Regions from separate parts of the Homo sapiens genome. Here all the other regions are linked to region 3. The links come from fine-mapping of genetic effects on gene expression. A gene starts in region 3. Each other region holds a variant in brackets. All regions are shown on one strand. Distances are from middle to middle.

The links. PIP is the estimated chance that this variant, and not a neighbour inherited with it, causes the effect.
Region 1: its variant is fine-mapped to the expression of DACT1 in whole blood (TOPMed, PIP above 0.99).
Region 2: its variant is fine-mapped to the expression of DACT1 in transverse colon (GTEx, PIP above 0.99).
Region 4: its variant is fine-mapped to the expression of DACT1 in whole blood (TOPMed, PIP 0.98).

Annotation. Positions count from the first base shown.
Region 1 is chr14:58,373,620-58,381,657 of GRCh38, forward strand. All of the region lies in intron 1 of TOMM20L-DT (TOMM20L divergent transcript), which reads right to left. It overlaps ARID4A (AT-rich interaction domain 4A), which reads left to right. Exons shown (of 24, transcript NM_002892.4): 24 at 1-257. Among named protein-coding and RNA genes, the nearest start is that of TOMM20L-DT, 18 kb to the right of the region's middle. The variant C/T (reference allele first, on the strand shown) is at 3,137.
Region 2 is chr14:58,719,115-58,727,152 of GRCh38, forward strand. No RefSeq gene overlaps it. Among named protein-coding and RNA genes, the nearest start is that of DACT1, 85 kb to the left of the region's middle. The variant G/A (reference allele first, on the strand shown) is at 3,529.
Region 3 is chr14:58,633,731-58,641,768 of GRCh38, forward strand. It overlaps DACT1 (dishevelled binding antagonist of beta catenin 1), which reads left to right and starts at 4,232. Exons shown (of 4, transcript NM_001079520.2): 1 at 4,232-4,817; 2 at 7,006-7,138; 3 at 7,862-8,017. The coding sequence starts at 4,473. RefSeq lists a silencer at 4,023-4,732.
Region 4 is chr14:58,594,448-58,602,485 of GRCh38, forward strand. No RefSeq gene overlaps it. Among named protein-coding and RNA genes, the nearest start is that of DACT1, 39 kb to the right of the region's middle. The variant G/C (reference allele first, on the strand shown) is at 4,270.

The DNA.
Region 1 (8,038 bases), 260 kb before region 3:
GTACTCTTGTAAAATGCACTTTTCTGTCTTTTCTTTGCAAAGCAGAAGTATCTCAATGTAAAATAAAAATGGAGCTCAGTGGGCAGTATTAATAAAGGCCATGTTTTAAACATAGGCTTTATACTTTTAGTTTTCATTTAAGTGATTGCTTTTTTCCTAAGTGCTTGTAACTTACAGTTGGAAAATCAGATTTCACAAAACCAAGCATTTTAGTATATTCAGCCTTTACAATAAAATATTTCTACTAATTATAAAAATGAAAAAAAAAGTGTCATTTAAATCCATTTGGACCTAGGAGGCAACCTTAGATTTATACATTAAATATTTTAATGATTTCCTTCTGTAGCAATTCAATAAATGTGAGATAAATAAGTTATCAGCTTGAGTACTGTCCCTTCTAATTGATACAAATTTGGTCATGAAGTATTGGGATGTTGCTACAAAGAGCAAAACTGTGTATTCATTGAATAGATACACACTGTTAAAATCCTTTCATTTGGAGGCTGGAAAGGATTATGAAATTAAGTGAATATTGACTAAGTATGACATTTCAAATATTGAGCATATTTTGAGTTTAGGTAAACTTTGAATAGATACCTCTTAAATGTAACTAAGAAAGTAAAAATATAGGCTGGGTGCGGTGGCTCATACCTGTAATCCCAGCATCTTGGGAGGCAGAGGCAGGCGGATCACAAGGTTAAGAGATTGAGACCATCCTGACCAATATGGTGAAACCCCATCTCTGCTAAAAATACAAAAATTAGCTGGGCGTGGTGGCACGTGCTTATAGTCCCAGCTACTCAGGAGGCTGAGGCAGGAGAATCACTTGAACCCGGGAGACAGAGGTTGCAGTGAGCCCAGATCACACCACTGCACTTCAACCTGATGACAGAGCAAGACTCTGTCTAAAAAAAAAAAAAAAAAAAAAAAAAGTAAAAATATAAAGACACTCTAATATAATGCAAGTTGCCATCTGTAAAATCAAGTTATTTAAAAGATTATGGTGCTTTCTGTTTTAGTATTGCATTGTGTGCTTTTATGTATTTCAATTTTTGAAACAGGGTCTTGCTCTGTCACCTAGGCTGGAGTGTAGTGGTGTGAACACAGCTCACTTCAGCCTTGACCTCGTGGGCTCAAGCCATCCTCCCACCTCAGCCTCTTGAGTAGCTGGGACTACAGGCATGTGCCACCACACCTGGCTAATTTTTAAATTTTTTGTAGAGACAGGGTCTTGCTGTGTTGCCCAGGCTGGTCTTGAACTCCTGGGCTCAAGCGATCCTTCTGCCTCGGCCTCCCAAAGTGCAAGGATTATAGGTGTGAGTCATTGTGCCCAGCTGGACATTGTGTGCTTTTATTGTTTGTTATTTTGTGTTAAATTTCTAGTTTTCCTCTCTTTCACTAAGAAAGATGGTTGCACTTAGCATATTAAAAGACTACTACATACTATGCCTTCTATGAAATTGCTTTAAGTTATGAAAATCTATGTGGATTGCCCAGTTAATTTGCTTACATACCTTTCTTATAAGCCCTGTAATTTTTTTTTTTTTTTTTTTTTTTTTTTTTTTTTTTTTTTTTTTGACGGAGTCTTGCTCTGTTGCCCAGGCTGGAATGTAGTGGCGCGATCTCCACTCATTGCAAGCTCCGCCTCCCGGGTTCATGCCATTTTCCTGCTTCAGCCTCCTGAGTAGCTGGGACTACAGGCACCCACCACCACGCCCGGCTAATTTTTTGTATTTTTAGTAGAGACGGGGTTTCACCGTGTTAGCCAGGATGTTCTCAATCTCCTGACCTTGTGATCCGCCCGCCTCAGCCTCCCAAAGTGCTGGGATTACAGGCGTGAGCCACCGCGCCCAGCCTTAAGCCCTGTAATTTAACATAGCTATCAAGAGTGTGAAAGCATTCAAAGCTATATTCAACCATATATAAAACCAATTAACAGAATTCATTCATTGATGATTTATTTAGTATCTTCTATGTGCCAGGCATAAGCTTAAGGCCCAGGAGCCACAACGGTGAACAAGACAGAATAAAGTCCTTCTCTTCATGGAATGTATAATCACGGTGTAATAATATGGTAGATGTAAACAGTTAACTCATGTAATTATTATTTTTTTATTACAGTCTCTGCTTATCCAAACTCATGTAATTCTTAAGTGCAGGTATAATAAGCATATGAAGTTATGGTGTGCAATGAGATAATGATAGAGAGCCCACTAGTTTGAAGGCAGGGGTGGTATGGGAAGGCTTTGCAGAGAAAGCAACAAGAAAACTGAACTCCAGTGAAGATTATGAATTGGCTGGGGAAGTAGAAGGAGAGATATGGAGAGTATAGTGTTCCAGGGACATGGGGGAGGGGAGATTGATAGAAATGGTCCAGGTAATGAGCCAGGGCAAGAGTAGACCTGATGCAGGATAGGAGTCAAGTAGGACTGAGAGTGGTAGGGGAACAGGAGCAAAAAGGACAGGTGGTCAAGGTTTGAGCAGTTCCCTACCACTCTCAACCCTGCTTGTCCAGAGGTGTCTCAAGAGCCACTTTTCCATGAAGCTTTTGCTGACTTCTCACTACAACCAGAATAGTGCCCTCTTTTATGCTCTGATAGCTTTTCAGTCTGTATTATTTTACTTGACAATTTACCTGATGTTTACTTGTGCATGTGTGTTTCTATCCTACTAGATGATTGAGTTCTTAAAGCCAGACATTTGTTTGTTTGTTTTGTTTTTTAGTAGAGACAGGGTTTCACCACATTGGCCAGGCTGGTTTCAAACTCTTGACCTCAAGTGATCCACCCGCCTTGGCCACCCAAGTGCTGGGATTACAGGTGTGAGCCACGGCGCCTGGCCTAAAGCCAGACATTTAAAAGAGGTCTTTAGGGTTATTATTATTATTATTTTGAGACAGGGTCTTACGTTTGACTACTGTCACCCAGGCTTGAGTGCAGGGGTGCAATCATGGCTCATTGCAGCCTCTATTTCCCTGGCTCAGGTGATTCTCCCACCTCAGCCTTCCAAGTAGCTGGAACTACAGGTGTTCATCACTTTGCCTGGTTAATTTTTTTATATTTTTAGTAGAGACAGGGTTTCACCATGTTCCCCAGGCTAGTCTTCAAATTCCTGGGCTCAAGCGATCCACCTGCCT[C/T]GGCCTTCTAGAGTGCTGGGATTACAGGCGTGAGCCATTGTGCCAGCCAAGGTTCTTTTCACAAAGTAATTAAAAAAAAATCATTTGAAAAGTGTTAAAGCAGATTTGTTTAACAGTCTGATCTGAAAATATTCCTAAATTGATGAGCTATTTTTCCTTCTCTCCTTGTTTGTTCTTCCTTTTCCCATTACTTTCATGTGGTTACACACAGATTTTTATCACATTAAAGGAAGAGTACAATAAGTGATGACATCCATCATTAGTGAAGGTTGGTTGACTCTTAGAATGGAGTTTGCTCTAATGAGGAATTTGTAACAAATACATGCTTAATGTTTTCACAGAGTAGAAATTTTTTTAGTTCTTTAAATTTTATTACAAAATCAAATGTTTTCCATGTTGACAAGCACAAAAAAAACTTCTTTTATTCATATAGATCCATTATGTATCTCTTTAAACAGAATAAGGGCAGTGCTTATAATTTTGGTATTTGTACTTCACATAATTATGAAGCTATCTTCACTTTGTAATCTGTGTCATGCAGAATTCATGTTGAAAAGTTCTATTGTGAAAAGCTTAAGGAACTTCCACATAGATACAATAAATGATTACTCTGTACAAGTAATTGGATTTCTTCTCGAGGCTAAATTACATTAAACAAGACAATCTGATTCAAGAATCCCATCATTTTAGGGTTGCCAGAGTGAGCAAATAAAAATACAGGATACCCAGTTAAATGTGAATTTCAGACAACAGATAATTTCCTCATATAAGGATGTCCCATGTAAAATGGTTATTTATTAAAACACACTTAGGCTGTGCACGGTGGCTCATGCCTGTAATCCCAGCACTTTGGGAGGCTGAGGTGGGTGGATCACCTGAGGTCAGCAGTTCAAGACCAGCCTGGCCAACGTGGTGAAACCTCATCTCTACAGAAAATACGAAAATTAGTGGGATGTGGTGGTGCATGCCTGTATTCCCAGTTACTTAAGAGGCTGAGGCAGGAGAATTGCTTGAACCTGGGATGCGGAGGTTGCAGTGAGCTAAGATTGTGCCACTGCACTCCAGCCTGGACAATACAGCAAGACTCCATCTCAAAAAAAACAAAAGGCCCAGCGTGGTAGCTCACGCCGCTAATCCCAGCACTTTGGGAGGCCAAGGTGGGCAGACCACAAGGTCAGGAGATTTGAGACCATCCTGGCCAACATGGTGAAACCCCGTCTCTACTAAAAATACAAAAATTAGTTGGGCATGGCGGCACATGCCTGTAATCCCAGCTACTTGGGAGGCTGAGGCAGGAGAATCACTTGAACTAGGAGGTTGCAGTGAGCGGAGATCGTGCCACTGCACTCCAGCCTGGCAACAGAGCAAGACTCCGTTTCAAAAACAAACACACACAAAAACCTCAGATTTAACTGCGTATCCTGTATTTTATCTGTAAACCCTATACTAGTTGCCCTTCTGCTATAACACAAAACATATATTTATTATCCTTAAAGAACTTTTTTGGTCCCAGTTGGAGGGTAACAAATTGCTCAGGTTTTCTCTTGGTTTCCAGGGATGAATGTGCATGGGCAGCCCATCAGTGATTTTTTTTTTCCAATAAGTTTTTGGGGGACAGGTGGTTTTTGGTTATATGAATAAGTTCTTTAGTGGTGATTTCTGAGATGTTGGTGTACCCATCACCTGAGCAGTGTACACCGTACCCATTGTGTAGTCTTTTTTCCTTCATCCCCCTCCCACCCGTTCCCCCAAGTCCCCAAAGTCCAATGTATCATATTATGCCTTTGCATCCTCATAGTTTAGTTCCCACTTACGAGTGAGAACATAGAATGTTTGGTTTTCCATTCTTGAGTTACTTCACTTAGAATAAGTCTCCAGGCCTGGTGTGGTGGTGCACGCCTGTAATCCCAGCACTTGGGGAGGGTGAGGCAGGTGGATCACCTAAGGTCAGGAGTTTGAGACCAGCCTGGCCAACATGGTGAAACCCTGTCTCTACTAAAATAAAAATTAGCTGGGTGTGGTGATGCACACCTGTAATCCTAGCTACCTGGGAGGCCCAGGGGAGAGAATCACTTGAACCCAGGAGGCGGAGGTTCCAGTGAGCCGAGATCACACCACCACACTCAAGCCTGGGCAATAGAGCAAGACTGTGTCTCCAAGAAGGAAAATAATAATGATAATAATAATAATAATAATAATAATAGTCTCCAATTCCATCTAGGTTGCTGCAAATGCCATTATTTCATTCATTTTTATGGCTGAGTAGTATTCCATGGTGTATATATATATACCACAGTTTATCCACTAATTGACTGACAGACATTTGGGCTGGTTCCATATTTTTGCAATTGTGCATTGTGCAAGTATGCACATAAACATGCGTGTGCAAGTATCTTTCATATAATGACTTCTTTTCCTCTGAGTAGATACCCAGTACTGGGATTGCTGGATCAAATGATAGTTCTACTTTTAGTTCTTTAAGGAATCTCCACACTGTTTTTCATAGTGGTTGTACTAGTTTACATTCCCATCAGCCGTTTAAGTATTCCCTGTTCACCACATCCTTGCCAACATCTTTTTTTTTTTTATTTTTTGATTATGACCATTCTTGCAGGAGTGAGGTGGTATCACATTGTGGTTTTGATTTGCATTTCCCTGAAAATCAGTGATGTTGAGTTTTTTTTTCATGTTTGTGGGATACTTGTATATCTTCTTTTGAGAACTGTCTATTCATGTCCTTAGCCCACTTTTTAATGGACTTGTTTTTTTCTAGCTGATTTTGTCTGACTTCCTTGTAGATTCCGGATATTAGTCCTTTGTTGAATGCATAGATTGAGAAGGTTTTCTCCCACTCTGTGGATTGTCTGTTTACTCTGCTGATTGTTTCTTTTCCTGTGCCGAAGCTTTTGAGTTTAATTATTAGTAAGTACCATCTGTTTGTTTTTGTTGCATTTGCTTTTGAGCTCTTGGTCTTGAAGTCTTTGCGTAAGGCACTGTCTAGAAGGGTTTTTCCGATGTTATCTTCCAGAATTTTTATGGTCTCAGGTCTTAGGTTTAAGTCTTTGATCCACCTTGAGTTGATTTTTGCATAAGGTGAACAATGAGGATCCAGTTTCATTCTTCTACATGCGGCTTGCGAATTATCCTAGCACCATTTGTTGAATGGGATGTCCTATCCCCACTTCATGTTTTTGTTTGCTTTGTCGAAGATTAGTTGGCTGTGTTTGGCCTGATTTCTAGGCTCTCTATTCTGTTCCATTGGTCTGTGTGCCTATTTTTAAACCAGTACCATGCTGTTTTGTTGATCATGGCCTTATAGTACATTTTGAAGTCAGGCAATGTGATGCCTCCAGATTTGTTCTTTTTGCTTAGTCTTGCTTTGACTATGCCAGCTCTTTTTTGGTTCCACATGAATTTTAGGATTGTTTCTTCTAGTTCTGTAAAGAATGATGGTATTTTTATGGGAATTGCATTGAATATGTAGATTGCTTTGGCAGGATGGTCAATTTCACAATATTGATTCTACCCATCTAAGAGCATGGGATGTGTTTCCATTTGTGTTGTCTATGATTTCTTTCAGCAGTGTTTTGTAGTTTTCCTTATAGAGGTCTTTCACCTCCTTGGTTAGGTTTATTCCTAAGTATTTTATTTTATTTTATTTGCAGCTATTGTAAAATGGGTTGAGTTCTTGATTTGATTCTCAGCTTGGTCGCTGTTTGTGTATAGCAGAGCTACTGATGTGTGTACATTAATTTTATATCCTGAAATTTTGCTGAATTCATTTATTCTAGGAGCTTCTGGAGAGTTTTTAGGGTTTCTAGTATACGATCATTTTATCAGCAAACAGCGACAGTCTGACTTCCTCTTTAACAATTTGGATTCCCCCATCAGTGTTTTCTTTCAATTAACCATTTCCTTGATGTAGTCATTTTCTCCAGGATTGGCCCTATATGTACTATGATAGCTAACTTTTGACAAGATAGTTCTGAATACACTCAGATTTTTCTGGGAGTGTTCTTTTGATGGGGCACCTTTCCCACCAAGTGGTAACTGCTTTCAGGAGTTCTCCTCTTTCTTCCCTATCCAGACTTGCTCTCAAATAGAAACATAAATTAAATCTCATTAAACTTATCTATGACCAGACATTTAATAATTGTGGATAAAGCCAGCATAAATATTCATATATAGCTTTTTGTGTGAACATAATGTTTTCAGTTCTCTGGACTAAATACCTAGTAGTAAGATTGCTGGATTGTTTGACTGTACCATCTTGAATTCCCCCTAGCAATATACACCATTTTAAGTGGCCATTAACAGGAGAATGGATAAATAAATTGTGGCATGTTAACAAAATGCAATACTATAAAGCAGTTAAAATGAATGGACTGCAGCTAAATGTATCAACATGGCTCAAATCTCAAAAACAAGTAGAAAAAGCAAGTTGCCAAATCATACTTATAACATTTATACAAAATTGGAATATTCAAAACAATATATTAGTTTTGTATATGTCATCATAAATGTAAGAACTTGAAGCTGGGCGCAGTGGCTTACACCTGTAATCCCAGAACTTTGAGAGGCCGAGGCGGGTGGATCACAAGGTCAGGAATTCAAGACCAGCCTGGTCAACATGGTGAAACCCTGTCTCTACTAAAAATACAAAAATTAGCCAGGTGTGGTGTTGCATGTCTGTAATCCCAGCTACTCGGGAGGCTGAGGCAGGAGAATTGCTTGAACCCGGGAGGGGGAGGTTGCAGTGAGCCGAGATCTCACCATTGCACCCCAGCCTGGCAAGAGCAAGACTCCATCTCAAAAAAACAAAAAGAAAAAATATGAGTGGGAATGAAGAACACCAAATTCAGGATAGTGGTTTTCTCTGGAAAAAGGGGAAAGGCATGGAGA
Region 2 (8,038 bases), 85 kb after region 3:
AGTGGGCCAATGAGAGCCAAAAGAAATTCAATTTTGGCATTGGTGTTTGAGGTATTGGGAAGCAGATTTTCTTTTTGTTGGACTGAGGTTTCTGAAGATATAAGCCTGAATTTTCTAGAAATACTTTTGTGAAGTCATGGATTGGAGCTTATCTAGAGGAAGAACTGCTAGAAGGAGGAGCCCAGAGACATTGTGACTGATCCAAGCTCCTTCAATAGGCAAGATTGAACACGGACTTTTCAGTTTTTTTTTTTTTTTTTTAATGGAGTGTCACTCTGTTGCCCAGGCTGGAGTGCAGTGGCATGATCTCAGCTCACTGCAACCTCTGCTGCCCAGGTTCAAGCGATTCTCCTGCCTCAGCTTCCCAAGTAGCTGGGATTACAGGTGCCTGCCACCGTGCCTGGCTAAGTTTTGTATTTTTAGTAGAGACAGGATTTCACCATCTTGGCCAGGCTCGTCTTGAACTCCTGACCTCGTGATCCACCCGCCTTGGCCTCCCAAAGTGCTGGGATTACAGGTGTGAGCCACCATGCCCAGCCTAGACTTTTCAGTTTTATGAGCCCATAAAATACCTTTTTTTTCCCCCTGGTTTGCTTATATCAGGTGGGATTGGGTTGTTTTTATTACTTGAAAACCAAAGAATTCCAGCTTTAACTGTTTTTCTTCCCTCTGCTCCAGGCACCTTTTATATCCTTATATTTTGTTCTTGCCCCACTGTTGACTAATACCTGGTGTTTGGGTAAGGTGGAGAATGTAGGGCTTTCTTGTCTAAGGGAGGCATGGACATCAACTACCAGGGTCATCCTTCAATACTAATGATTGAGCATATTATGTATCTGGCATACAATTTGTATGCCTTGGGGAGAAAGAGGAAAAATGGAGAAGGCAAAAATGGAAGGAAATAGGGCAAGGAGAGAGGTGGTTTCCATACTAAATGGAGAGGGATGCGATTACCGCCGGGTCTTTACTTCTATTCAGATACAAAGAAAAGGAAGGACTGGGCCGGGCGCGGTGGCTCACGCCTGTAATCCCAGTACTTTGGGAGGCCGAGGCGGGTGGATCACGAGGTCAGGAGATCGAGACCAACCTGGCTAACACAGTGAAACCCCGTCTCTACTAAAAACATAGAAAATTAGCCAGGCATGGTGGCAGGCGCCTGTAGTCCCAGCTACTCGGGAGGCTGAGGCAGGAGAATGGCGTGAACCCAGGAGGTGGAGCTTGCAGTGAGCCAAGATAGCACCACTGCACTCCAGCCTGGACGAAAGAGCGAGACTCCATCTCAAAAAAAAAAAAAAAAAAAAAAAAAAAAAAAAAAAAAGGAAGGACTGACTTGGGAAGGAGGGAGATTGGAGGTTCTTACCCAAACCCCTCAGTGAGGACCAGGGAAGATGTTAGCTTCCTGTTTATATTTGTAAGGAATATGGAGGCAGGAGTCGGAGGCAGGAGTCGGACAAACCTAGACTTGACCTGTCTTAGTCATGATTTCCATAGATATTTGTCATGGGCATAGACATTTTCACAGCTTCCACAAGGAGAGTCCTTGATTAGAATTTGAGAGTGAAACCAAGGCAATATAGTTTCCTAAGGTGGCAACCTGGATACTGCGGATTGATATAATAGGTCAGTTTGCAAGTTAGTGATCATGCTAAACAAAGCCCTAATGGCCCTCTTCTAAAGATGGATTTACTCCAGACACCTCCAGGAGCTCTGTTTGATGAAGTCTTCATACTAAGCTCAGAATTTTCTTATTTGGAAAATATCAGTTTGAATGTATCCTCAACAGATCTTATGGTGGATGCTGGAATAGCACATGCAGAGGAAGTATGTTATTTCAAAATTCCCTTGGATTAAAGAAGAGGCCAAAGACTATTTGATTTCTGTGCTAAAATATCAATGAATGCTCCTTATTCTGGAAGGGAGAGGTACAATAGTCAATAATAAAGACCCCATAATAGCTAGTCAAGCACATACATGGAATCTAGAAACACTTTTAATCCACTATTTCAAATGCCTAATCCCAGTGCTACATTCTGTCTCCTTCCAAGTCTTCATGGTTGTGGAAACTGGAAAATTCAATTTGTCTCTGACCTCTGCCCATGCCTCTGTGGTTTTAGTGCTAAATATTATACTTGGGAAACATCATGTGGTCAATCTCAAGGAAAATGAAGACTTTTGGACTCTCATCCTTTTTTTTTCTTTGCCTTACAGATCTTCAGCGCTCTGCTCTTCTACTTTATTCTTCCTTTTCTCCTACCCTCTTCCTGTCGAATTTTGTGTCTAGCCTTAGGGGAGGGTTGTCTGTCATCCTATGTTTTGCTAGGGATGGGAGTTGGAGTAAGGTAGGGGCTTTGGGTCCTAAATGCGGAGAAGGGATAGAAAACATTTTCTTTGAAGGTAATCTTAGAGTAGAAGATTTAAGTAATTGGATTGCAAATACTAGTTTTCTGCTAGCACTTCCCATTGTTATTATATTAAAAGAGTTTCCATCTCCTTAGTTTACTTTACAGAATACCTCATCCTTGGTAGGTATCAGGCTCCAAGAACAAGTGTAGGAAAGACCTATTGCATGAGAAAAGGAACTATACAGAGAAGAGGATTTCTATACCCCTGACACCCAGGGCAGGAGACACTCAGATATTCTTTTAGGCTTTTACTTGGTCGCATGGCAATTGCCCTGTGCCATGGCTTTTTTTGATTGGAATTCCTAAACTGAGAAATCAGACACTGAGTGGATTATATATTCTTGGCTGCCACTAGGAAAAGGAGTCATGGTCTCAGCAGGGATAGCGACATTGTTTTAATTTCTACCATCTCAAAACAGATGGAACCCTGGCTTAACTCTGGTTTTGGCTCTGCTAAACAGTTAGTATATGGAAATTGAATATTTAAATACAGTATATTTATCCCATTGTGTTTTAATTACCCATTTACTTGCTTATCTTTTCCCATGAGACTGTTGGTCCCTGAGTCTGCTTTTTCACCTTTATCTCCATTGCGTAGCACATAGCCTGGCACATCATTGGTGCTCATATCTGTTGAGTATGAGGGTGAAATAGCCCCATGGCACAGAAAATCCAAAATGTTTATTTGACGTGTTTAGAAGGTGGGTAGGAACATTTTCTTGCTTTTTGCATGTGTGGGACATTTTTACTGACAAACTTTGTTTTTAAGGAAGCAATGATAAAGACAAATATAAAGAGGTTGAATAAGCTGAAAAAATAGTCAGTGTTGACAATGTTTCTCAAAATGTGGCCTGAAGACCACTAGCTTCCTCCCGACAGCATGCTTATGGTCCACATTGCAATTTTTTCTTTTTCACTCTGTGTCCTCTGTCCCCCAATCTTCTACAATTTATTAAGTTTAATTTATTCTTGCTTCAAATCAAGGAAACCGTGTGGGGTTTTTAGTCTCCATTTTTAGAGGGAGAAATTGAGGCCAAATAAATGCAGTGGCTTGCCCTATCATGCCCCAGGAATCCCTGGACTCAGATGTGACTGTTTTTCAACCCCTGTTTTAAACATCCTGTTT[G/A]CTATTGGGCTCGGTGTCCCTTCCTGACCCATTTTGAAACAGATGGAAGAAAGGTCAGCAAGGAGGAAGTGGAGATATATGGGTTTGTTTTCTGGAAAACAAATGTAACTCAAGGATTTTTTTGTGTGTATTTTACTAATATGATCTTCAAAAATACCCACCAGGATCAACAAATATTTATATTGCGAACACGAAATGGCTCATCCTCAGAGATACCAGCTGTTCGTAAATTGTACCCAGAAAATAAAAGTATAAGATGTATATTTCTTTACAGAAACATATAATTTGTTTCTCTTTTCATCCTTTTAGTCTCTTCTAGATAGGCTATAGAATTATTTTGCTTGGCAAATTATGGAATAATTCTTGGCAAGCTTACAAAAAGAGAAGTTAAAGTAGAAAAGGATTAATTTCTAGACATAAGAATTTTGCTCTAAATCACAGTGGAGTTGAGCATGATATTTTAAGAATTAGCCATGATGAAAATTTGTTGTTGTTCCATCCGCTAAATGGTTGCTAAAAATGTGATAATATCTGGGGAAGGGTTCCCTTTATCTCTCCTCTCTCCCCTCCCTCCCCTTTCTCTCCTATCTTCTCCTCTTCTCTTTTTAAAATTTATTTCCAAGAATGCTCCATATATTAAGAAAAAACACCTATCAGGGTATTTGGTTGGAGTAACATCTTGTCATTTTTATTTTATTTATTTATTTTTTTTCAAGATGGAGTCTCACTCTCTTGCCCAGGCTGGAGTGCAGTGGTGCGATCTTGGCTCACTGCAATCTCTGCCTCCCAGGTTCAAGCGATTCTCTTGCCCCAGCCTCCTGAGTAGCTGGGATTACAGGCATGCACAACCACGCCTGGCTAATTTTTGTTCTTTTAGTAGAGATGGAGTTTCACCATGTTGGCCAGGCTGATCTTGAACTCCTGATCTCAGGTGATCCGCCTGCCTCAGCCTCCCAAAGTGCTGGGATTACAGATGTGAACCACCATGCCTGGCCGAACATCTTGTCCTCGATCCCACTTGGAGAACCCATTTGTGTGTGGCCCTGGGCAGTTAGGCTGCTTGATGCCTTTCAGCTTGCACTAAGCCACTCATGCTTTACATCCCGAGTTCCATATTTTATTTTATTTTTTTCCTTCAAACTTTTATTTTAGGTTCAGGGGGGTACATGTGCACTTTTGTTACATGGGTAAATTGCATGTCACTAGGGTTTGGTGTACAAATTATTTTGTCACCCAGGTAGTAAGCATACTACCTGATAGGTAGTTTTTTATCCTCATCCTCCTCCCACGCTTCACCCTCAAACAGGCCCCAGTGTCTTTTGTTGCCTTCTTTGTGTCCACGTGTACTCAGTGTTGAGCTCCCACTTATAAGTGAGAACATGTAATATTTGGTTTTCTGTTTCTGTGTTAGTTCACTTAGGATAATGGCCTTCAGCTGCACCCATGTTGTTGCAAAGGACATGCTTTCATTCTTTTTTATGCCTCCATAGCCATCCATGGTGTATATGTACCACAATTTCTTTATCAAGTCCACCTTTGGTGAGCATCTAGGTTGATTCCGTGTCTTTGCTATTGTAAATAGTGCTGTCACAAACATACGTGTGCATTTGTCTTTATGAGAGAATGATTTATATTTCTTTGGGTATATATCCAGTAATGAGATTGTTGGGTCAAATGGTAGTTCTGTTTTAAGTTCGTTGAGAAATCTCCAAACTGCTTTCCACAGTGACTAAACTAATTTACATTCCCACCAGCAGTGTCTAAGTGTTCCTGTTTTCTGACCTCCAGAGTTCCATATTTTATACTTTCAGTGTCTTGGTAGGAGTGAGGGGTGTGGAGTGTCCTTTGGCTGGAGATGGGATGGTGATGAAGGAGATGACAAATATTTCACCACTAATAATGTCAAAATGGAGGTGAAATTTTAAGTTTTCAATCAACATTTTTTGAAGTTGCTTGCTTAGATTTACTTTTTTTTAGAGAACTTTTAAAATTGATGCATAATATTTTACATACTTATGGGGCACCTGTGAGTGTTTGTTACATGCATAGAATGTATAATGATTGAGCCAGGGTATTTGGGGTATCCATCAACTTGAGTATTTACCATTTTTATGTGTTGGTATCATTTCAAGTTCTCTCTTTTAGTTTCTTTGAAATATACAAAATATTCTTAGTATAGTTACTCATTAACCAACCTCTCTTCATTCCTTGGCTTCCACTCACCCTCTCTTTCATTTCCAGTCTCTGGTTATGTATCATCCTATTCTTGATCTAGCAGAGATCAACTGTTTTAGCTACCACATATAAGTGAGAACATGTAATATTTGTCTTTCTGTACCTGGCTTATTTCACTTAACGTAATGGAACCTCCAGTTCCATCCATGTTGCTGTTAATAACAGGATTTCATCCTTTTTATGGCCAAATACTATTCCATTGTGTACATATATCACATTTTCTTTATCCATTGTCTGTTGATTCAATGAGCATTTAAAAAAAAAATTTAGTAACTCAAGAAAGTAGGACCTAAACTCAGGGACCTCACAGTTTCATTCTTTTCTGCTGGTTTTATGATTTCCTGGACCAGAGTTGCAGTAAAATGAATATACAGTTGACTTTCCTCCATGGGTATCTGGAGGAAAACAAATGAATCATAAAAGAGTTTTTCTATTATTGCATGAAAAGTACTAAAATACTACAAAGTGCTGCTCTGTTTTATAGAGGGAACCATGAAGTAGTAGTCTTTATGATGAGGTTTCTTGGAATTTTTTTAATGCAAGAGGATCTGAGGATGCAGATTGGATGTAAGTTATTAAACATCAAGACCATGGCAATAAAGATGCCACTGTTCTTTTGATAATGCACAGACCTTTGTACTTTTGTGTGTGGGCTTTCCTTTCAGAAGATAAATATATTTTTAAAACTTTGACAAATGAAGAGTGTTTTGACTGTTTGTGAGTTAAGGCAAAAAAGAATGATGGCATGAAATCAGTAATGTGCCCAGTGATTGATTCCACACTCATGTTGAGAATAAACCCATCTTAAGATGTTCCTTTTAAAAAAGTTTTTCCATATAATATATTCAAAGTCTTATAGGTCAGTATTTTTTATTTTACTTCTAATAAATTTTCTCTTGTAAGATATTTTTTGTTAGCTGCTGTTCCTTGGAATAATGTTTAAAAAGGGATTTGCTACATATGTATGAGATTTAAATATTTTGAAGTTTTCCCATCTTTTTTTCTTCTTGAAAGTCAAAACACCTCTGAAGATCAAAGAAATCTCTTTTCCCGATTATCCAGGAGTAGAATTTGGGATTTTATCTCAGGAGAAGTACACTTAGAAAATGTAAAAAGAAAAACAACAAAAGTCCCAGCTGGAGTGAGAAAAATCAATCCCTCACAGACGTTTTTGTCTGTGGCCAATTGGTGACTTTCCAACAGGGTCTGTCTTTTGAAATCTGGTTTCCTCTCTCCCAAATTAAACCCTGGTTGTATCTTAAAAAGAAAAGTCTCCACCATTCTGTCTACCATGACTCTCTATAAACTTTCCTTCATGAAGGAAAGGGAGAGCATTTTGAGAGTCTTGCAATAGTCAACATGGTGATTTCACAGTTGAGTTTACATTCTCTGCATTCTCTCCCGTAATATTTCTTTTACCTAAAGCAAATCCTATATTGAAACCTCAATAGCATCAGAAATCTTTCTTAAAAACAAGAAGTTTCGGTGACTTTTGATTATAACACAATATAACATTCACATAGTGTTCACAAGTGGCTACTTAAATTTATTTTTCATTTTTTTATGATTAAAACATTGTTTTCAGAGACAGGGTCCCACCATGTTGCCCAGGCTGGTCTTGAACTCCTGAGCTCAAGTAATCCTTCTGCCTTAGCCTTCCAAAGTGCTGGGATTACAGGCGTGAGCCACCATGCCTGGCACAAGTGGCTTTTAAGGTTCATAATATTAACCACACAGGTGATCTGTTTGGTTCATCACACTTTGATCTAGTGAAATAGTTGAGGATATTCAGTTATGAGGAGAAGACAAACCAATACAGATGAAGAAAAAAGTAAGCAATCTATTGGTATGTATCATGTGCATTTTTGGTACCTGCCAATTTAGAAGGCACTATGGCAAATAAAGCAGATGACATAGCCCCTGTGTACAGAGAACTTGGAGTCTGGAACAAGATGCAGAGGCAAAATGGTATTCCATTGTTCAGAGGCAGAGGTCTCGGCTGCAGTCACAAAAACTAACAGAAAGAGAGATGAAGGCAGGAAGACATATATAACTGTGAAATATTAGAGTCTTTTTTAGCATAACACTCTTTCAATTTTATTTTTCGAAAGTAATAGTCACCTCATTTTGCTTTTAAAATGGTTGTGGCTTCGTTTTGGCCTTGCCATGAGGTGATCCCCTTGCATTCCATATCTATCTCCCAAGGACCCAGGAGCTTAGATCATGAGTGTTTGCAAGTATCACCATAATTATTACCTTGCTCACTGGATAGGTT
Region 3 (8,038 bases):
AGTCATGGCTGCAGTGATCTGAGATCGTGCCACTGCACTCCAGCCTGCGTGATAGAGTAAAACCGTGTCTCAAAAAAAAAAAAAGCCACTTGTCTCTGAAACACTTTTAAATTTTGCTTTGAAATCAAATCCTTTCATTGTATTAGTACCACAGTATGTGGCTCTAGGTATTTGCACACATGGAACTCTGCACCTTCCATCTGTAAAGATGACCGGTAGAAATGGCAGAGCTAAGGGACAAAAGTCTGAGGCTGGTGGAGACTTAATCACCTTAATCAGTGATTACGACGGTGGGGAATGCAACTCACTTCCAGACATTCTAGAATCTTTGGAATCCACAGTGCTCTGCAGGAGGAAGCAGGAGCCTCTTGAAAAACTTACCACCAAACTTCATGGAATCACCCTGGCCTTCTTCAACAAAAACCTCTTTAACAGCACTAAAACACAGCTAAAAGGTAACCTTTTCATGTAGGATGGTTTATTTGGTAGTGTTTGGTTGTGCACCAGAGAGGATGGAAGGAGTTGTTTCATAGCCTTTCAAACAAGACCAGCATTGTCAAACATTTGCTGTTTCTTCTGCTATTCCCCTATTCCCTTCTGCCCTCAAAAGATGTTTAAAATTTTCAGGGCCATGATGTTGCCCCATTTTGCTACCACGCTTCTTTTTTCTTGATCTTTTGTTTCAATGTCTGCTTTCTTTCCCCTGTGTGCTCACTGAAGCCTGATTGTGGGGTCAAGCTATAATTAGTTTATATATGAAGTTTAATTCACTGTGGCTTTTTTGGCATTAGACTCAAATGGGCTTTGATGTCTGGCTGGGGCTTTGATCCCAGACCCTCGAATGGTGGTCATCTCTCCAGCTCAAAGGATTGCCCTTTACTCTTTTCCTCCTATTCGGAGACAGCTTTTCCCAATTACATCATTTGTGTTTGTTTGGCCATAAAAGCTGCAAGGCATCATTTTGTTGCTTTGCTTGATGGCAAAATGTGCAACTGATGCCCCTTACTTTGCTTGGCTGCAATAGAATGTTCACCGCTGGACAAGGCATTTGTAGAATGATGCTCAGACTTTGGTGGGGGTGCTGTTAGGAGCTGTTCTGCCTAAGGACAAAGCATCAGACTGTGTGATATGAGGGACATGTTCTGGCTCTGCCCAGGAAAGATCTTCAAGCATAAGTTAACACCACTGTAATATATTCAGCCAAGACTCTTTTTCATGCTGGCAACTTTATCTTACTCTCCAGATCATCCAGGCAGCAGGTCCACCCCATCGTTAGTGGTACACTTTCTGAGTGTCAATTAACAGTTTTTCTGAGCAGACAGGCGTGTCCAGGGAAAGCAAAAGAACCAACTAGGGCTGAACAACATTAGAAAGGAGATAATGAAATAGCACTAGTGGAGGAAGAAGTACCAGCACCTGCTTTAAAAAGAAAGGGAAAGAAAAATCAAAACAGTAGGGGGAAGTGAGATTCCGTTGGCAACAGAAGGGAGCAGTAGGCGATCACTTTCAACTGCTTCCGGAATACCTGCAACAAAAACAAAGAATCAAAGAGGAAAGAAAATCCAGGCAACTAGACTGGAGGGGAGAAAATTTGGCTGCTAGCTTAAAAAGAGAATAGGGGCAACCCAGCCTGTCTCACTTAATCTGATGACATTGGGAGTTTTCCTGGAAAAACAATTACAGCATTGAGCTCCTTGCTTCTAACTTCATTTGACAGCCTGAGTTTGTTTTAATTGGCATGTGAATGAACAGCATTATTTATTAATGTGTAATGGATACTTTGGAAAGCATAACCTTTTTTCCTATTCGTGACCATTTTATTGGCGGAACCATCTGAATATATTAGTTTTAATATTTAAACTTGCTGAGAACACTTTTTCATGGAGATATACAAGCTGTTACGGCAAATGGCTTGCTTTGGACTAATGAGCCAGCTCAAAGTGGCATTTGGTGAGGAGGGGGGTTGGGAGGGTGGGGAGGTTTGGAGACATAGCGAGCTTGTCTGCCTGACTTAAGATTTATTAGTAGTGTGTAAAAATGTGTTTCAGCTTTTTTTCCCCCTCAACTATACAAATATAGTTGTCGATGTGTGACATAACACAGGCCACAATAATAGACTCCACCCAGTCAGAGGAATCTAATTCAGAGCTGGAAAGCAAGAAGCTTGTTTAGAAATGAGCAGAATGAAACAATGACAGAGGACATGGGTGAGTGGCATTTGGCAAGCAGGATAAGTCACTATCCTTTCGTGCCTTACTAAAATTAGGGAGGAAAATTAGTTCCTATATTATAAAGTAGTGTTTGGCAACAGCAGGCATAAAGAATAGATAACCTGAAGAGAATCGATTTTGTATGCTTATGAACACCTGACCATAATTCCATTTTTAGAGCTAATATACAACCTTGTTAATTATGAATCAAGTTTGTAGTTCTTTCATGTCTGTGGGAGGCAGCAATGGGGAGGAAAGTGAAAGGTGGCAAGGGAGTTCTTTTGTTTTTGTTTTTTGGTAAATGTCAACTTAATTCTATTTGTAGTAGAGATTAAATGGGTACTATTAAGTTTAAAAGTATGCTAATGAAAAAACAATTTACAACCAATCTACATTCTCGAGTCTCTCTCTAGCAATTGTCAGGTGAATGCTTGCAAGGTAATGTGCTGAATACAGCGATACTAAGAGGGTATTAAAACAGTCCCTGCCTTCAGGAAGCTTTCATAATGTAGATGGAGAGAAGAGATACACATAAACACCTACGTAGATAGATATGCGTGTGCACACCCAGATAAATAACCATACAGGTAGCATGGGATCAGAATCAGATATTTATATAGTTAACTGGAGCTCAAAGGTTGGAAGGGTGGTTAGACCACACAGAGAGGGGAGGAAAGAAGAGGAATTCCTAGCACGGGTAAGCAGATGGGCAAAAGTGCAAGTGTCTGAAATAATGATATAGGATGCACTCTTTCACACAACACTTTGCCTGAACTTCAGCAATTGTGACTTGCTGGATTGAATTTCCGAGGTTCTTGGATGTACTGCTTTTAAAGATATATGTGGTACTTTTCCACAGATAAGCCAGCTAGTGGAATTTTCAGACCCCTATCCCACCGGAAATTTCAGTGGGATAGGGGTCTGGAGTAGTGTGTTCCAAGCAGAGATGACCAATACATGATACTTCAAGAGGGAAGACTTATAAATCCCTCTGGAGAAAAGCTACAACTCATATCACCTTTACTATCTATGTGCTAGCCACGTTGTAAGTGCACAGCCCCCACAATATATAGCATATGCTGCATACTATTATAATTCTTCAACAGCAGGTTCCCATAGCAGCTGCTCCCTTTTACAGTGGGGGGAACGTACACAGAGAAGGGAGTAAGTTGCCCGCACAGCTATTTAGGGGTGAAACTGGGATACAAATCCAGACAGTCTGATTTCTGAGTCAGAGCTCTTATTGTAAACGCAGACTAAGTAATAATAAAAGCTCAAACAAAAACCAAAGCGCGCACGCGCGCGCACTCAAATCGTAGGCTTGTAAAAGAATTGATGCAACCTCTCGCTATACAACGACATCCTCCTGCCTAATTTTAAATGCCGTCCATCGTAAGACCGACGTTAAAAAATTAAAACGACAACAAAACTTAAGTTTTAGAACACTGCATTGTGCTCTGTATTGCTTGCCTTTACAAAGTGGAGTTAAGGAACCAACCCCACAGTGTCTGTGAATACACTTGCAATACCTTGCTTGGGAAGTGAAAGAAACCTAACTCGGTGTGAGTGGAAATGAGGAGTGGCCGTGTGGGGAAAGGGTTAAGACTGTGCTGCAACTTGGTCGAGTTTCAGAAAGTTCTCCGGAGAGCCCAACTGCCGCGTCCCGTCGCGGCCCCTGCCTGCGCGGCCGACTGTAACAGGATGCTGGGGCTCCAGGCGCTCGCCCCGAGCTTTGGGCGACGAGAAAGAGCCAATGAGGAGCGAGGGCAAAATCGGGTGCAGTAAACCCGAAAAGGGGGCGAGGAGGCCCGCGAAGAGAGCGGGGGAGGAGGCGGGGAGGGGCGAGGAGGGGCGGGGAGGGCCGAGCGAGGAGGAGGCGGCTCTGGGGGCCGGGCGGCGCGCCTGACAGAGGAGGGGAAGCCTGGGGGCGCAAGCGTCGCAGCCGAGGGGCCGGCGCGGGGAGGCGGGCGCCAGGCGGGGGTTTGCAGGGCCGCCGCGCGTGACGTAGCGCCGGGCAGGGCGTTATCAGCTGCCGGGCCGCGGCGAGGGACGCGCGGCGACAGCGGACGGCGCTGCCCGGGCCGGGACAGCAGCAGCCGGCGGTCGCGCGCAGGACTCGAGGGCTTCTAGCCACCGTCCCCGCCAGCGCCGCGCCCCGCCACAGGGCGGCATGAGCCCACCCGCGGCCGCAGCCCTAGCGCCCTGCTCCTCCGCCTGGGCGGCCCGGCTGCGGTGACGGCTCTCGCTGCCCGACTGGGGGCCATGAAGCCGAGTCCGGCCGGGACGGCGAAGGAGCTGGAGCCTCCGGCGCCGGCCCGAGGCGAGCAGCGCACGGCGGAGCCCGAGGGGCGCTGGCGGGAGAAGGGCGAGGCAGACACCGAGCGGCAGCGCACCCGGGAGCGGCAGGAGGCCACGCTGGCCGGGCTGGCGGAGCTGGAGTACCTGCGCCAGCGCCAAGAGCTGCTGGTCAGGGGCGCCCTGCGCGGCGCCGGGGGTGCGGGAGCCGCTGCGCCCCGCGCTGGGGAGCTACTGGGGGAGGCGGCGCAGCGCAGTCGCCTGGAGGAGAAGTTCTTGGAGGAGAACATCTTGCTGCTAAGAAAGCAATTGGTAGGTCGTGCCCGAAGGTGGAGCACGGCTGTTCCTGCCCAGGGGCTGGAGGTCGGGCAGGTGGCCTGGGGCGGGCGCGAGGTTGACTCTGGCTGGGGAGATGCTCGCTGTTATGGGACGCCCCCGACCGCCCCATACCTCCCTGATCCCCTTCCTGAGTGCCCGCGGCGTGTGGGCTGCCGACGCCCACGCGTTTCTGGCGTGTGCCCGCTTTGTGTCTGGCGACCTCGCGCGGATTGCGGGAAGGGGGTGGCCGCTCTTCCCTCCTCCTCTGCCTTCGGGATTCTTGGAGTCGCCTAGTTCTAACGTTCGGTCTCCTTAGTTAGATGAGTATATGCCCTCTCCCCAGCGGTTTGCAAACTCCCACTTAAAATACCATTTTATTTGGAGGTTTTCTTGACTTTATCTCCTCCCGCCGAGAGGGGCCAAAAGCCAAGGAGGGGGTTTGTGGCGTGCTTAACTGTCCAGGGCCGAGTTTTACGATTACACTGGAGCGCCTGTAGGGAGCCGTGCCTCTCCGAGAGCTCTCCCCAGCATGCCAGCTTTCACCCAGGCTGGTGCTTAATTTCAAATAGAAGCCCTTTGTATAAGGCAGCTCAAACTAGATGGAAATGATGGAAATTTGGCTGGAGACTGTGTCCCCTCCTCTCATATTTTATACGTTCTGCCAGCTGTGATTGGTGGTGGAGGTGGGAGAAAAGAGAACCTGCTCTCGGTAAGCATTTATCTTACTGGGTTTCTGTCAGTGTCTCAGTCTTTCTATGCAGTCTTCATTAATGGGGAAGAAAAAGAACTTTGTAGCTTAATGTATTGATGAACAGCTTTTGACCCCGCCTCAGAATAATGGCGACAGCTTTGTTTTCAGTGACCTTAAAATGTAGTTTTGGAAACAGCAAACGTCCTCACCTGACCAAGTGATACTATCTAAACTAGACACATGCCAGGTAGTGGCCCTCCCACAATAAAGTGGTGATGCTGTGCAGTTGTCATGTGTTTTCTTCTATTATCTCTTTTCAGATCATTTCTTTTCTCTGTGTGTGTGTGTGTGTTTTTAAGCACCAAAGTGCTTTTACTTGATAGGTTCATTTTTCCTGAAGAAATTAATTGTAGCAAACAAACATACAATTTATGTCTCCAAGCTTTTTAAGTCAAAAGACAAGAGGCGTAGATATTCATATGCATGTGTTTTGTAAGGATGTACACTGTGGTTTGTGTAATATCTCTGTTTTGGCATTTTACTGTGCTGCTTCGGTCACAGACCAGATTCCTATGTAACATTCATTTGAGCCAGTTCTCACTGGTTATGGCTGGTGACTTTTACATTTTATTGTTTTGTGCAATTGCACCTTTTTGTCTGCATGAATCTCAAGATTGTAAGTGGCGCATTCCTATTGTCCGCTTGAGGGGAGCAAAGCAGTATGTCAAGAGAATTCCAGTCCAGTCAGTATTTATGGTACTATTTTCATTTGTAGACTTGGCATTCATGATTTGAACCAGATGCTTTTTGAGTTCTCCCGTTTTTCCAGCAATAGGAAGCACTAGGTGGCAGTGTGAGTTAGCACAATCCATCTGTCACCTTTGGAAACCCAGAGGCGTTCAAATCTCGATGGGCCTTCCCATGAGGGTTTTGGATTCTGCCAGCTCACATTATACTTGGCACTGGCTATTAGTATTAGTTTCTCACTTTCAAAGGCTCTAAGACTGATTAAACCCCACAAAGCAACTAATAGAAAACAAAACTCTGCAGGCCAAGACATTTGGCCAGAAAATCTCACCTAAGATTATAGTGTATTATAGGAAATCTCTTACTCTCATTTCAAATTAAAGAGTCTACTGTGAAGTATTGTTTTTTAAAAGACTGGTTATACACCAGATGATTTAAAGTCTCAGTCCATTTTTCTTGTCCCTATCTATGAAAAGTCAGTTTGTATATATTAGTTGAAACTAAAAACAAGTCTTGTTTTTATGAAGAAACTTTATATCACCACAAAATGTGAGAAAGTGGAATTAAACATAGGACATATTCTTGAATTCTCGAAGTTTTTCGTTACTTCAGGTCATCCAGTAAAATTTTGGTTTTCTAAGTTTAGTGAACTCTTCAGATGGGTAATTTGAATCCTTAGAGTAGACTTTCTGGTTCTTTTGTCACCCCTGTATGTTCATGTTTCCTTTGTTTCTTCCTAATCAGAACTGTTTGAGGCGAAGAGATGCTGGTTTGTTGAATCAGTTGCAAGAGCTTGACAAGCAGATAAGTGACCTGAGACTGGATGTAGAAAAGACATCTGAAGAGCACCTGGAGACAGACAGTCGGCCTAGCTCAGGTGAGTGATTGAGCACAAGGACAGAATTCTGCACTCTTGAGTTGTATCTCAGCCCCTTGTGGTTAACATTCCCAGACCTGCAAATGGCAATGGAGTTTGTTTCCAGTGCAGAGAGGATAAACAAAAAAGAAGTCTGCCATTCAGTTTTATCGGAATAAGAGGGAAATAAACTCAGACAACAAAATTTTTAGTAATGAGATCAATGTGATTGGAGTCCCCCAAGTTTAAAAATAAAAGCTATTCAAATTTCTGCAAGAGGTGCCCTCCTTTGAAACTTGAGTAAGTCAGAACTGGGCTAGAAAATTAGTCACACTTCAACTTCCTGAGACCACTTCAAAAGTTTTTTTTTTTTTTCTTTTAAACCATTTGGGCTCCTTAGATTTTTCTCTTATTATTGTTCTGAAACAATCATGATAAAGATGAGGCTTGACAGATCTAAGTTTCTTTCCTTGGACATGTTCAAAGGCGGGGTCAAGGAATAAGGTCAATTTGAGGGTGAGGGTAACTCTGAAATGTACCCCTAGTTATGGGCTCTTTGCCTTTTCCTAAGGATTGTTTGAAATAAGACCATAAGATTAGGACACCAAAGTCCAATGAATCAAAATTGGCCAAAAAACAAACAAAAAATCTCCTTTTCCTAAATGATTATTCATTTTCCTGTTAAGCGTGAATATGCATTATTTCTTGACATGATGTTAATTCCAACGGTGTTTTTATTTGTAGGGTTTTATGAGCTGAGTGATGGGGCTTCAGGATCCCTTTCCAATTCCTCTAACTCGGTGTTCAGTGAGTGTTTATCCAGTTGTCATTCCAGCACCTGCTTTTGCAGCCCCTTGGAGGCGACCTTGAGTCTCTCAGATGGTTGCCCCAAATCTGCAGGTAAGAATTTTTAGCACTGAT
Region 4 (8,038 bases), 39 kb before region 3:
TTATCCAGGTGTGGTGGTGAGTGACTGTAATCCCAGCTACTTGGGACGTGGAGGCACGAGAATCGCTTGAACTCAGGAGGTGGAGGTTGCAGTGAACTGAGATCATGCCACTGCACTCCAACCTGGGCAATAGAGAGAAACTCAGTCTCAAAAAATAAAAAGTTATTGTGTAATATTTACTATATACTAAAAGACATGTGGAACATATATGTAAGTGAGGAAGGGCGGTGACAAAATAGACAGACACCTGCAATCCCATGACCCAAACTAAGAGCTAGAAAATTACCAGTAGCAAGGCGGGGCGCAGTGGCTCATGCCACTTTGGGAGTTTGCCCACAGTGCCTCCCAGCACTTTGGGAGGCGGAGGTGGGCAGATCACCTGAGGTAGGGAGTTCAACACCAGCCTGACCAACATGGAGAAACCCCATATCTACTAAAAATACAAAATTAGCCGAGCGTGGTGGCGCATGCCTGTAATCCCAGCTACTCGGGAGGCTGAGGCAGGGGAATTGCTTCAACCTGGGAGGCGGAGGTTGAGCCAAGATCGAGCCATTGCACTCCAGCCCGGACAACAAAAACGAAACTCCATCTCAAAAAAAAAAAAAAAAAAAAAACAATTACCAGTAGTAGGACATTTAACCTTTTTCTTTCTTTTTTCAAAATTTCTAGTGTGGAGAATTAGTTCAGTCAAAGTATATCTATAGACTTGGATTGATTGAAATAGACAGTAAATAGACTATAAACAAGTATCCCTCATAGATGGCTGTCTAGTCTTTAATTAAACACTTCAAGTGACAGGATATTCACTACCTCATAATGCAGGTGATGCCATTATTAGACCGCCCCTATCTTTAGAAGGGTCTTCCCTATATCGAACTGAAATCTGCACCCTGAAACTTCCATCCATTATTCTTAGCTTTACGTTTGAGAGACACTGTGGCTCAGATGCAGGCTCTGCAGCGGAGTAGATCTGAGTTGAAGTCTCAGCTCATTTACTTACTGTGATCTTGGACAAATTACTTAACTAACTTATTTTTACCTCAGTTTCATCTTCTGTAAAATGGGAAGAATAATAATACATAGGGCAAGCGAGACCAGACCACACGTGCTGGTCTGGGTTTGAGGATTGGTGGGAATGAAAACTTGGATTTGGCTTGAGTTACTTTGGCTTTCTTTGGGGGTGTGGTGGCCTGAGCCTGTAGTTCCAGCTATTTAGGAGGCTGAGACAGAAGAATCACTGGAGGTCAGGAGTTCCAGACCAGCTTGGGCAATATAGTGAGAACACATCTCTAAAAAGAAAAAAAAGAAAGAAAATTACTTTAGCTCTTGTGTATTGTCTGAATCAGGAACATGGTCAGTTGTAATTTACAGAAACTGAAAAATACAATGACTTATACAAGATAGAGGTTTAGGGGTTTTTTGTTTGTTTGTTTTGGTTTAGTTTTTAGAGAAGCAGTCTCATTTTTGTTGTCCAGGCTGCTCTTGAACTCCTGGGCTCCAGCGACCCTCCTGCTTCAACCTCTGGAGTAGCTGGGACTACAGGTGCATGCACACCACTGTGAAGCTCTAGGATTTTTTTTTCCCTAGGGAAAGGGAAGTAGGCTGTCCAGAGATGGTATTTTTCTGCTCCACCAGTTTTAGGCCCTGGTTTCTGTGGCCCAGGATGGCTACTGGGCCACCACTTCCGCGTTCTTGACAGGAAACTGAAGAAGGAGAAAGGACAGAAAGAGTGTGTGCTAGATCCTGTCTTCCGTTCAAGTGGCTTTCTTACAAATCTTGTAACCCAAGGTCCTCAGTTTTTTGGGTACGTACTGTGAAAAGGTACCTGCTTGTAACTGTTGCATCTTGAGTTCTTGTTGTTTCAAGAAGTTCCAGGAAGAAGCTCAGCCCCAAAAAAACAAAAACTGGTTGGATCTAGAGATGCCTGAGTTGGAGATGAACTTTAGTGAAGTCTCCTCATTACCGTACCAAAAACCCTGCCCAGGGAGGAGCTTATCACCATTTTCTATATGAATGATGTGTGTAGAAGCATGATCAGTTACTGTGTTGTCTTTACTCTACCTCTACATACAAAAACTCAGCTAACCAGTCCAATAAAAGCCCTATTTTCACCAGTGTTTGGGAAGGCGCTGCTTTGTGGGACTATCCCCGGTATCCTCCTTACTTGTTCTAAGTAATAAAATTCCCTTGTTTAATTCTCCTTGGTTAGGTCATTGGACTGTCACCTGTGAAGCTATTGAATCCATCTGTTATGTGAATAACAATCCCATGTAACAATGTACACTCACGTGTCACTGGACAGAGCTGAGCCACATGGCCATTCTTGGCTATAAGGCAGGCTGGGAAATACAGTCTTTTAGCTAGAACATTACCACCCCAGATAAGGTTAGGATTCTGATGCCAAGAAAGAAGAAAGGAGTGGATATTGAGCAGGCAAACTGCAGTCCCCACCACATGATTGAATCAGCAAATAAGCAGTACAAAGTTTATAGACATCTTTGCTATGTTGTATCTGTCTATCTATCTACCTATCTATCTTCTATATGGATATACAACATAGCAAAGATGTCTCTCCCTCTTTATATATATATATATATATACACACATATATGTATCTACATACGTACATCTTTGCTATGTATTTATCTCTTTCTCTATACATATACACACACATATGGAGAGAGATCTATATATCTATATATCTATATCTATGTCTATATCGAGAGAGAGAGAGAGATTTTAAGGAATTGGCTCATGTTATTGGCTAACAAGTCCAAAATCTGCAGCACAGGCTGGCAGGCTGGAGACCCAGGGACGAACTGATGTTTGCAGCTCAAATCTGAAGTTAGTCAGGAGACAGAATCCTTCTCCCTCGGGGGACCTCAGTCTTTTCTCTTAAAGCATTCAACAGATTGGATGAGGCCCACATTATGGAGGGTAATCTGCTTAACTCAGTCTGCAGATTTACATGCTAATCATATTTAAAAATGGCTTCACAGGCCGGGTGTGGTGGCTCACACCTGTAATCCCAGCACTTTGGGAGGCCAAGGCGGGCGGATCATGAGGTCAGGAGATCGAGACCATCTAACATGGTGAAACCCCAACTCTACTAAAAATACAAAATTAGCCGGGCAAGGTGGTGGGTGCCTGTACTCCCAGCTACTCGGGAGGCTGAGGCAGGAGAATGGCGTGAACCTGGGAGGCGGAGCTTGCAGTGAGCTGAGATCGTGCCACTGCACTCAAGCCTGGGCGACAAAGCGAGATTCTGTCTCAAAAAAATAAATAAAGAAAGAATAAAAATAAAATAAAATAAAAAATAAAAATGGCTTCACAACAACATCTAGACTGGTGTTTGACTGGGTGCCACAGCCTAGCCAAGCTGACGTAAAATTAACCATCACACATGGTTGCAGATGCAAGCAGATCTGGCTGCCTGGTGGCTGTTTGTTTCTAATGGATTCAGTGGAGATGAGTTCAGTGGGTTCACCAGCTTATACAGAGAAGGGACTCACCAGGTCAGAAAAGCCCAGAGCCCTGGGTTGTTGCCTTTTGCATCTTCTAAGGCTGGAGGTACAGAGGGAGAGTGTGGGGATGCATGGCACTTAGGGGCCACATTGTTTCCTGGAAAGTAGTTCTTGTGTCAGGGTCACAAAACCTAGTTAGTTCATGTTTTATTTCTTATGGCCCCTAAGGCCTGCACATGGGCACACTGTAGAGTTGTGTTGTGGACTGAGTCAGCTCTGTCCCGTAGAACTGCCTCAGCACAGTGCTTGGAACAGGCTGGGTCCCCAACAAATGCTAGTCGAAAAGCTGTAGTTCCTTAGAAATATTTGACTATAGTTCCACGTGCTTTCATAAGTATTTCTTCTTCTAAACATACCTGATTTCAGGCTTAGGTCTTTGTAACCTTGACTACACATTGTAATTTTGGAGGTGGGAGGCGAGGGTGGGAGGAGAAATGGGAATGGGTGAGAGGACTTTCTCATTTTAGCAGATGTTAGTGGGCACTGTAGCTAAATACATCTCTAACACATGGGGAATGTTATGTTTAAGTTGAATAACACAAGGAGTTTGTTTATATGCAGTTAGATAGCTCTCTCTCTGTAGAGGAAAGAAATCTTTTTTTCACCAGGAACACTTATTTTGTGGGTGTGCAGCTTCCTCCCACTTCTCCTTGGTTTGATGTGGTGACAACTCATTTCACAGACAGCACAACTGCAGACAGACCAGATCAGAGGAAAGGAGAGGAAGGGGTAGACTGAATATGTG[G/C]TATTTGGTGATATTGTGTAGCTAAATGGCAACTCTACTCTACTTTTCCTGAAATCCTTCAGGTATAAAGTTCAGGGAGAGTTGATACCTGATTAATACGTATAAAGAGGTTAATATAATGTACTTGCAATTACAAATGGTGAGTTATTCTCCTACTTGCTTTCTTATGCCAAGTAAGTAAGTCTTACCTTAATGACAGGAATAGTGAAATGGAGCAGGGTAGGCGGAATACATTTCAGAAGTTACATTACTTAACAATAACAAAATATATATGTACATATTCAATTTGAAACTTCCCTTTGGTTTTCATAGCCCATCTGCAGAAGGCCACCCAATTAGTTAAGAAGAAAAGGGGTTGGAGATCATGGCTGGTTATTTTATGTGCACTGAAATGGAGGAAATGGCCACAGTTGCTTAGCCAGGGGTGTACAAACCCTGCCCCCCAGCACCGCCATTAGACTAAAAAAGGCATCTTATAGCATCAAACAACTTAAAGAGATGTAATAAGGAAACTGCTTCCTTTGCACATCTGTGAAGAACATCTGGCTCTACGGTGAGCCCTGGCAACTTTAACAGTTAGTTGGTGGCCCACAGATTAAAAGGGAGGCAAACCCTCCAGTCATCAGGCTCGTCTGCAGAGTTTCTTGGTGGCATAACCACGAAGCCTAAGGGTAAAAAGCATCTGGTGCCTTTTTCTGCTGCGCACTTCGCCCGTGCTGAGCTTATTCCCTGACCACAGACTTAAAAGACAGGGGCTTACGGAGACTCAGGCGCTGGCCTCAGAAAGCAGTACATCTGAACTCTGCCCTAGAGGCTCTTCATCCTAGCACTGTGGGGCTGTTTGGGGGTCAATCCCTCAATTATTACTTCATCTCTTTTGTGGTATAGGATTATTGAAGACACGTGCCTTGTTGTATTTTCCAAAGATGGCCACAACAATATCTCTCATCCCACATGCTCATCTGCAATATGACCTCTCCTCTCCCATCGAGATGCAGTCTTATTTCTCTCCCCTTGAATCTAAGCTGGCCTCAGTGACTCACCTGCAGCCAATAAAATGTTGTGGAGGTGATGTGGAGTGACTTCCAAGGTTAGGCCAGAAAAAGCCATGCAGCTTTCTCCTGGCTCTCTTGGAAGGTTTGCTTTTCAGACATTCCCTCCTGAGATGCTCTGTTATAGGACCAGCTGCCATGCTGTGGGAAACCTACATCACGTGGAGGGCCAAATGCAGGTGCTCCTGTCAACAGTCTCAGCAGAATCTGGCCTTTCAGTCATTTTAGCCTTGACACCAGATATATAAGGGAAGAAGCCTCCAGATAGTTCCAGCCCCAACTGAGTTTTTAGCAGGGGTCCAGACATTGTGGAACGGAGACAGTTCATCCCTGCTGTAACATCCAAATTCCTGACCCACAGAATCTTTGAGCACAATAAGATGGCTGTTTTATGTAAGTTTGAGGTGGTTTGTTACACAGCAATAGATAATTGGAGCATGCACATAAGAGATACTTTTGGAGGAATCTGAAAGCAGGCTATTAATCAGAATGCCCCACTTCCCCTCCCCTATACCAGGACACTTTTCTGCGTGTCCAGCACTGTATTGCACAATGTCTAACTTGTAAGAGAGGTATAGTTACCCCCAGCCTCTCCTTTGTAAGCAATGGAAAAAGATGCCCATTCCCCTGAGACAATGCAGCCCTACCCCACAACACATAGCCTGGCAGGCCAAGTGCAGGTTCCCATCCCATTGCCTCCCCAGCCTGGCTGGATATCTTGTGCAGTGCAGGAACTATACAATTGTATACAGCAACCTTGAAGAAGTGTAAAGTAAGCTCTCTGTCCTCAAGGAATTTACATTCTTATTGATGATATAAAATATGTGTAGTTTAAGATGGAAAAGTTTTAAATGCTAAATCATGAAATAATACTGATTCTACAAAGAATTTTGCAAAAATAACAAAAAATATGGAGCTATAGAAAAAGCACTGGACTTTTAAGTAGGAGATCTGGGTAGAAGAGCCAAGCTCAAGCCATGTCCTGCATGATGCTAGCATGGCCTTACTTGGTGCCTGGGAATAGGCACTTGAGTTCTTTGGGCTTCAGTTTCCTTTACCTGGGGAATGAAGTTGGTCTAATTGGTGCTTCTCAAACGTTTCTGTTGTGATATCCTTATGGCATAACAGAATGGTGTCTGAGGGTTTAATCTGGATTGCCTGGCAAGAACTGGACTTAAAAAAACTGCACAAACCCTTGATTTGTTCAGATGACTCACTTCTCATTGCCTTTAGTTTTCAAGAAAAAAAAATGACCTTAGTGGAAAAGTCTTCCTCAACCACTGTATTTCAAAAAGCACAGCTCCTTCACCATTACCATTCTCTATCTGTGGTACGTTAAAGATGGCCACAGATTCTTTAATACTCTTCCTGTTGAGAGGGAGGTCTATGTCCACTTAAATCTAGGCAGGTTCAGTGGTTTGAGCAATGGAATATAGCAGCAGTGGTGCTGGACTAGTTTTCAGGTTGAGGTCTTAAGAGATTGGCAGCTCCCACTTCCTGACTCTTGGAACAGTTTCTCCAGGAGCCCTGAATTTGATGTCTTGAGACCACCATGCTGAAGTGACCAAGTGTAGGTGCTCCAGTCAACAGTTCCGGCTGAGCCCTACCTTCTGATGATTCCCACCAAGGCATCAGACATGTGAGCAAACCCACTTTGGACTCTCAAGATAGGTCCATCTGCCAGTTGATGCCACTGAGTAGAAGGACCACCCAACTGAAGCCTGCTGGAATATCTGGCCCATAAAATTGTGAGATATCATAGAACAGTTCTTATTTCGAATAACTAGGTCTTGAGGTTGTTTGTTACACAGCACTAGATAACTGGAACGTGAACGCTCAACCTGCTTTGCTTTCTTTACCAGGAGTGCTGTCTTGGATCTAGCTCACACTGGATCACAGGAAGTTAAATTTTCAAGAATTGTATGAGCCAGTTATTAAATAAAGCCACCATCAGGAATTGAATGATTTAACTTCCAATTAAATTAATTATATTAAAAATGAAGTTAATAAATTCTCAAAACTCATCACTTCCTAGTCTTTTACTACATATTTCTCTTATGCTCTTGAGATTATTAATGTCTATGATATCTGTGTGGTGGAAACACTCTACAGTCAGGCCCTACTGCACTCTCCCAACTCCCTATCCAATGACATTGCATTGGTAGCTTGAAATTAATCGTGGTAGAACTATTTACACCACAGAAATTTTCCAATGCCTCTCAGAAAACTGGTTGTTAGACATTTATACCAGCACACCACTACCATTGTTTACTGCATTTATAACCATCTGATACAATTGTTACTTATTAATTATTTGCTTATTCCACACCCCCGACCCCTGCCAATGGAATACAAGCTTCTGGAGAGGAGGAGCTCTGTCTTTTTATTCATCACTATCTCCCCAGAACTTAGAAGAGTGCCAGGCACAGAGGTGTTCAGTAAATACTAATTGAATGAAGGCATCCTCCTCCTGTTGTTTGCTACATCCCACTTCTTGGAGACTGCTGGCTTCCTTCTCAGCAGCTGTGTGACTCTACCCCGCTGGCCATAGACACCTGATTCAAGCGGGACCAGTGAGCATCCCTGAACTGCACATATGGAATTGGGTGAGACAATGCTTTTGCAGAGAGGGAGAGGGGGACACAGTGAGAGCACAAGCCAGCAATTGGAGTGACTGGTACTTTAAAATGTGAATTTGGAAGCTATGGACAACCATT